Homo sapiens: one gene and its partner. The protein of the gene in region 1 purifies or fractionates together with the protein of each later gene. This does not show direct contact. Each region holds a gene or a part of one and is shown on either strand. Other genes may lie near its edges.

Region 1 (4,106 bases):
TCATCTTTAGTACCACATGGTGACATCACCATTCAATTAAAGTACCCTAAACTGTGCACCAGACATCCTCCACTGTGCCATCTACCATCTTCCCCAAAATAAAGCTCCCTCAATTCCAACATTCAAGGACAGGACATATCAACAGAAAAGTAAATAACCTTAAAACTCCCTTCCAACCTTGAAATTTTATAATCAACCTAATCCACTCCCAACCCCAAATGCAATCCACATTTATTTTCCCATGTAACTCAACGGCGTGCTTTTGAGAAAGAGCCTTCTAAGTTGAAAGAACCACAGGGCTAACCACTGTAACGCTAACCTACAACTCATCTCCAGAAGTCTTACTGAAGATTTTTGCAATTGTACTCCACCTCTGTACCACAGGGACGACCTCCAAACTGCCTTAACAGTAGTCAAGCTGTGGCACAAAGTTACCGGGCCCCCTTCCCACACTAACGTAAAGAGCCTCTAAACCCTGGGCTAGATGCTTGCTCGCCAAAGGATGCCTGTCTTTACTGTCTACTCCAGGAGACACCAAGAATGAATATCACCCCATCGACAGTTTCGATCAGCCAACATTGAAAATTTCAAAACAATAAAACAAAAACATAGTGCTTCCACTCAGGGAGGGAGGAGGTGCGAGCGGAATAGAAGGGCACCCCCACGGGCCTGTGCTGTTGGCCTCCCGGGTTTGCAGTGTTTCCCTCCCACCTTTCCCCTCGACCACGTCTTTCCCTACAACAATCTCCCGCACCTCCATAACGCGAAATCCCCAGCCGAGGTGCGGCCGGCTCCTCCCAGCCTTGCCCCGGACGTCCCTCTGGCCCAGCCTTCCTCTCGGCGGGACCCCGGCGAGGAGGGCCCCCTCCACCGACCAGTTCACCTCCCTATCCCTTCCCCGGCCTCTTGGCGCCCCTGCAGGGCTCTGTCCCGAAACCGAACCTCGAGGAGCCAAGCCCACGAGGCCAGTCGCGGGACCCACACCCCCCTTCCTTCTCCCAGCACCTCGTCCTCCATGCACCCGGCCCCCGGGGCTCCTCGTCGTCGTCGTCCCGGCTCGTACCGCCCCCCGTCGGGGGCTCCACCCCCCCGCCTGCCCCCGCCCCCAGGACGGCCCCCTCCCCACCGCGCGCCGCCTGCGCCCTCTGCCCCGGCACGGGACTCTCTTTGGCCTCCGTTCCCCGCCCAGAAGCGGCGGCGGCGGCGGCGGCAACGGCTGCGGCGGCCCCAGCAGGAGCAGCAGCGGCGGCGGCGGCAGCGGCGGCGGCAGCAGCGCCGCCCCCGGCCCCGCCCCGCCGCCCGCCGGAGCCCCACGCCCCGCCCGCCCGCCCCGCCGCCGGACTGCTCCCCCCGAAGCCCACCACTAAGCCCTCCCACTCCCCGGCCGCGATCCGCTCGAATCCAGCTCCGCTGGGCCTGCTGTCCGTCCCTCACGCCCCTTAGGACCCGGGGTGGGGGAGCCCTGGGGTTCGCGGCCATCCCTCTCCCTCCTTCTCCAAGGGCCGGGGGATTGCCCCTGATCCCGAAACCCGGCCCCGTAACCGGAGCCTCCCTCCTTCCAGCCCTCGGCTTCGCTCGCCGACCCCTTGCCTCCAGGCCTGGCGCGAAGCGGGTGGAGGGCTTGCACGCCGGATCTCCCCTCTGGCTTGCCGGTGCTAGTATGAATTGCCCCCGATCTCATCTTCCTTCAATTTAAGCCCCCTCCCCGCCGCGCCCGGCCCGGCGGCCCCCGCCCCTAGAGCGAGGGCAGCGGAGCCAGGGCGCTCCGAAGTCATCCCCCGCCTTTTTTCCAGGGACTCGGATAATTGCCCCTGCCCCCATCACAGCACTCCCACTCCCGAACCCAGGCCCCGCCGCCACCTAGGGGTACCCCTTACCCTACGATTCCCGCACCCCAGCGCCGGGAAGAAAGCAGCCCTGAAGAGCACCCGTCGCACCTCCCCTCTGAGGTTGGAGGGCATTTTCTCCCGGTCTCTTCAACACTTCATCACGGACACCCCCCCCCCCCAAAAAAAAGCCTTTTCTCGCCCTGCCCTGCTAGCCAGCCTCCCTTCGGATCGTCGGATCCTTGGATCGGGGGTTGGAGTCAGGTAGTTAACAAGACCATAGCCTCCACCTCCCTTTCCGAGGAGTGGGGTAATTCCTATGGTTTCCCCCCCAGGATCAACCGACCCCCGTTTCCATGGAGACCCCCGCCCAGCCGGGAAGAAGACTCTCTTGGATCGTGGCGAACGAGTCTCACCTGGCTAAGAGAGAAGGGGGTCGAGAAGGGGGTAGGGCAAGTCAGGGGATGGGGTACGAAGGTGGGAAGTGGAAGGGAGCTGTCCCGAAGGGAGGGGCGAAGACATACCCAGCTCCAGGGAGCGCTACGTCCGGGGACACGAAGAGGACGGCGCCCCCGGGGGGCAAGCCGAGCGGCCGCAGGGAAAAGAAGGAACAGGGTTGGAGAAAGGCTTAAGATAGAAAGAAGCGGGTGGGGGGATACGAAAAAGCCGGGGAGTCAAAAGGGGTGGAGGGATTGGGGGAGAGAGAAAAAAGACGCACCTGTTCCCGGGTCGGCTCCGCGGGGAGGCTCAGGCCGCCACCCGGGCTCCCTCTTACTCCCTCTTAACCGCCACCCGCCTAATACTGCCCCGATCTGATGCCCCCCTCCGCCCCTTATCGCCACCGACCTCCTTCTCCTCTCTCTCGGCGGCGGCGGCGGTCGGACTCTAGGAACTGAGAGGAAGAAGGGAGGGCTCAGCAAAGCGGAGGAGAGACAGAGCCACACACTGGCAGCAGCCGCGGCGAGCGAAAGAGTGAGGGGGAGAGCGGTGTGTGTGTGTGTCTGTGTGCGAGCGAAGCCTGGTGGAGTGGGTGCCGGTCGCAGGGCTCGACGGGAAGTGGAGTCCGGCTGGGTCCGCGGGCGGCGCCAACCCCCGCTCCACCGGACTACAACTCCCAGAATGCGGCCTACGCGGGTGGGGGGGAATGGGGAGGAGGAGGCGAAGGGAGGGAGCGAGCAAGAGAGGGAGGGACGAAAGCAGGGAGCAAGCGGCGGCGAAGGGGGCAGAGCCAAGCAGCCCCGGTGACACTGGGAGGGGAGGAGAGGAGGAGGGGATCGCTGAGAGGACCGAGCGGATTCCGGAGAGGGAGGCAGCAGTGGCTGCAGCAAGCCGGGCAAAAAGCTAGACTCCTGGGAGAGGCGGAGGCGCTCAATCTGCGGGGCTGCAGGAGCCCCACGTCCCCCCCCACCTCGACGCCCCTCGAAGGGGGAGGTTGAGGAAGGGAGAGGGTCAGTGAGCCGCGGCCAAAGGGTTCTCTCTCTTTCTTCCAACGTTCTCCACCTTATGCCCCGACCTGACTTTCTCAGGCCACTGGTGCCGATCCAGTGTGCAAATCTCGAGACCCCAGATCTCCTCTGCCGGGCAGCGGAGAACAGACGCATTCAGTCCCCTTCTCCCAGGGGCCTGAGGGAGGCTCCCCTTGCAGGCAGGGCGTGACTCCCCCTTCTTCCCGCTCCCCCCCCCACCGTCGTCGCCACCCCCCCATCTCCCTCCCCGGAACCCCTCCCCTGAAGCCGGGGCTCGCCTCTCTCTCTCCCCGCCAAGACACGGAGTCCTTCTGGGGACGACTACCCAGCCCCCTCCCTTATACTGGGCCCCTACCCACCAGTATCCCCTTCTTAGCGTTGCCCCCTCACCGAAATAATGGTGGGGGCGACCCGAGTTGGACTGGTGGCTACTTTCCCTCCAAGGCTAGCCGTCCTTCGCCACGCCGACCCTGTGTAGAAATAGAGAAGCATATTAATACTCCCGTCCCCCCTCCCCCCCAGATTTGAATACCCGTGGAAGTGGCTCACAAGAAAGAGGGGTTGGTAGTGGAAGTGAGCTAGGGGTGAATCCCAATCTTCAAACCTCATCCCTCCCATGGAAATCCAGGTATTCGCCTTTTGCTTAAAAGCCATTAAATCGCTTGGGTGGGGGGTAAATTATCTAAACCCCAATGTCCATGCGACTCGAAGCGACGCTACCTTGTAGGAATAAGATACGAACTAGGTTGCCGCCACGGGAAGGAAAGTATCCCCCACCCCCGTCGCCGTCCACCCCCAAAAACACATACCCCTA
Region 2 (3,500 bases), on another chromosome or scaffold:
CCCATATTTGCAAGCCCTTTACAGTTGGAGGCAAAAATCAAAGCCCTCGAGGGAGGGAGTTAAAGGGAGGGAGGGAGGAAACGTGGGGCACTGATTCCCTTTGTGTAACCAGGTAAGCCTGAGACAAGCAGTGGGCTGGACTCGTCCTGCCTAGCGCTGTACTCCACTGCCAGGCTGACATGCTTGGCCCTGTTTACTCACTCCACAGCCGTGTTTGACCGGGAACAGCATACCCTCAACCTCCCAGCAGTCAACAGCATCACCTACGTCCTCCGCTTCCTGGAGAAACTCTGCCACAACCTTCGTAGTGACAATCTGTTTGGCAACCAGCCCTTTACACAGACTCACTTGTCACTCACTGCCATAGAGTACAGCCACAGCCACGACAGGTACCTACCAGGTAGGAGCTGGGATGGGGCCTGGGCTGAGAGTGGGGGACAGGGCTAGCAGCAGCACCTGCAGGGGCCCAGGGTCAGCCTTCAGAACTACTGGCCTGGCACCTACTATCTAGAGGTCTGCTTTTCTGTCCCTTACCTTTGCCATATCTGAGACTTCTCAGCCTCCTCTCATCTTTACTTTTTCTTCAGGATTTTGTTTTCTGTCTCTAGGATCACCCCTATTTCTTCTAGATCCTTATCCCTAGATAAAAGGTGGTTCGCAATTCCCCTTCTGAGTTTCAGACTGCATGTGGAGCCACCAAGAAGTCACAGAACGTCTCCCAGTGTGAACCTGGCAGCAAAGGCCTAACACACATCTCCCTTGCCAGCAGGAAGGTTTAGTCTCAGGCTACAGATTGAGAAATTTGCTCCCTGGTGATTGGCCATCTATTCTTTCCTTTGGCACATGGCCCTAACTTCCAGCACTGCCAGTCTAGCAAGTCAATTCAAGTTCCTGCTATTTCTAACTCGGCTGGAAAATAACTTTCTTAGTTAACATACCAGACCCACAATGGGAAAGCAGATGCCACGTGGCCAAATCAGTGACTAAGTACTTCCGAGAGAGATTAAAGATTCAATGGAACTCTGCGTCTCTCATCTGGAACCCAGGACACAGAACAAGGGAGGGAAGAAAAGCTCAGCCTTAAACATAGCAAGGTAGGTCATTACTGAGAGGGAGGAAAGGCCCTTAAAAAAGCCCTGCAGATTGTGTCCTGAGCAGAGAAATAGGGAGGGGTGCTGCCAGTGTGAGTGCTGTGCTGTCTGTTGATGGGAGGGCACAGGTCTGAAAGGTGTCTTTTCCGACCTTCCTCTACACAAACAAGTCTTGTTCCCACACTGCCTTCCCTGGTGTCTTTTCATCATAGTCTTAACAGAATCACCTCCGATAAAAGCACTGCTTCTAGAGAATGTGCCCAGGGAAGTGACTGTTCCCCCATTCTCCTTCCCCCTTTCCCTCATAGATACTTCTGTACCCAAATCCGTATTGCTTATGTGACTTGCAAGCAGGTCAAAAAGATACCTGAATTTTAAATACTCTGTGGGGGCCAGACCATCTGATCCCTGCAGCCATTTCTATGATCCCCTGGCTGATCCTTTTCTATGGAGGGAACTTCTCCTCACCTAACCCATGCTAGATTGCTTTCTTTCAGTACCAGAGTCTCTGAGAAAAGAAAAAGGCATTCTGACTTGCAGTTAGAATGTTGCACTGGGAGTCTGGACTGGGCATGGTAGAGCTGGTCCAGACAAAGGCAAGTTTTAAATACCTCCAGTTAGGCATTCAGGAACTCTGATCTACATTTCAGACGTGAAAGTTAGGCCTACCTGGGATTCTGAAAGAATGGATGCATGAATGGGGGTTAGCACATCCATGAATGTAGCTGCTAGTTTAAAAAGAGATTTCTCAAAGAAATAGGAACTCCGAATTCTTAAATGGAATGCCATCATTAAGAAGTGAGAGAAACATACTGGTAGCAGCATTCAGAGACTGGTAAGGATGTACCTCATGGGCCTGCAGTCCCAAAAGTGGTTTGGGACCGGGGCATGACCTTTCCTGGGAATTCTGCCCCAATTTACATCTCTCTGATTCAGCCACTAGATAAGAGGAAGCAAACTTTAGCCAGACTCTTCTTGCCTCACCAACTAAGAGAAACAAAGACCAAGGTATCACATTCTGCCATTAGCTGCTACCTCTCCCTTCCCCATTTTCAGACAGATTGAGCCCACTTTTTGTGTCCTCCTCTGCTCTTAAGCTGTTTCTCATCGTGGGTGCTCAGCAACTTGTCTGCTCTCACTCTAGTTTCTATTTGCTTCCCTGAAATTAGCCTTTAACTATGCCCAGACAAGCCAGAGCCTTGCCTAAACTTCTAATTCCTCTGTGCTTCTTAGTGTATCCTTTCTGCCTGCTTGCCTGCCTGCCTTCCTGCCTGCTTGCCTGCCTTACTGACCCTTTGCCCCACCTCTGATATTATCATTTCCTGTGTTTTTCTGATTACTTACCTAAACCTCTGCCAAAGAGCTCGATCTGTACAAGAGCTGTCTTTTGCTTTGCCCTTTGGATCTGGTATTTATGACTCCTGCCCTTCTGCCTGGCTACACGCTTCTGCTAGACATACATAGGTACCACCTCTGTTATCTGGGTGCTTACTGGCCCTCCCCCTTTCCTATATCCTTGTCTCCACACTACCCTACCACTTAGAGTCCTGGCCCAACTGACCATGCACTTCCGATATAGCAGGTAGTCACCCAAAGCTCAGGGAGATTTCATATCCCATTAAGCTTTCCTACCTAAGTTGAGACTACTACTTTTTTCTCCAATGTTTTATTTTAAAAATTTCAAACCTACAGAAAAGTTACAAAAATAGAACAATAAGCAACCATGAACTCTTTGCCTATCTTTACCACTTTTTGCAGTATTTACTTCGTCTGTTTCTCCTAACTATATATACACATATAAATATACATACTTGTTGAATACCTGTATATTTAAAATGTTTTTCATTTATTTACTGAACCATTTGAGAGTTAACTGCAGATGAGAGATTTTATCCTTAAATACTTTTGTGTTTATCTCCTAAGAATAAGGAACATAATAGTATTATTATGATTAAGAAATTTAACATAAATAAAAACTAATGAGGCCAGGCGCGGTGGCTCACACCTGTAATCCCAGCACTTTGAGAGCCTGAGGCGGGTGGATCGTGAGATCAGGAGATCAAGACTATCCTGGCTAACATGGTGAAACCCCATCTCTACTAAAAATACAAAAAAAAAAAAAAAAATTAGCCGGGCGTGGTGGCAGGCACCTGTAGTCCCAGCTACTCAGGAGGCTGAGGCAGGAGAATGGCGTGAACTCGGGAGGCGGAGCTTGCAGTGAGCAGCGATTGCGCCACTGCACTCCAGCCTGGGCGACAGAGCGAGACTCTGTCTCAAAAAAAAAAAAAACTAATGAAATTTAACATTAATAAAATACTACTAGGCCAGGTGCGGTGGCTCATGCCTGTAATCCCGGCACTGTGTGATGCCAAGGTGGGCAGATCACTTGAGGTCAGGAGTTCAAGACCA

The links.
Region 2: the proteins of BCORL1 (region 1) and SCMH1 purify together in Homo sapiens (affinity purification with mass spectrometry, with the first as the bait; one large-scale study listed by BioGRID). This does not show direct contact.

The regions. Positions count from the first base shown.
Region 1 is NC_000023.11:129,981,329-129,985,434, reverse strand, and holds the start of BCORL1 (BCL-6 corepressor-like protein 1), read right to left. Parts: upstream 2,801-4,106; 5' UTR 2,673-2,800; exon of another isoform or gene 2,545-2,672; intron 1,050-2,544; exon of another isoform or gene 1,006-1,049; intron 1-1,005. UniProt on the Homo sapiens protein: Transcriptional corepressor. May specifically inhibit gene expression when recruited to promoter regions by sequence-specific DNA-binding proteins such as BCL6.
Region 2 is NC_000001.11:41,043,307-41,046,806, reverse strand, and holds part of SCMH1 (polycomb protein SCMH1), read left to right. Parts: intron 1-208; coding exon 209-400; intron 401-674; exon of another isoform or gene 675-1,094; intron 1,095-2,916; exon of another isoform or gene 2,917-3,500. UniProt on the Homo sapiens protein: Associates with Polycomb group (PcG) multiprotein complexes; the complex class is required to maintain the transcriptionally repressive state of some genes.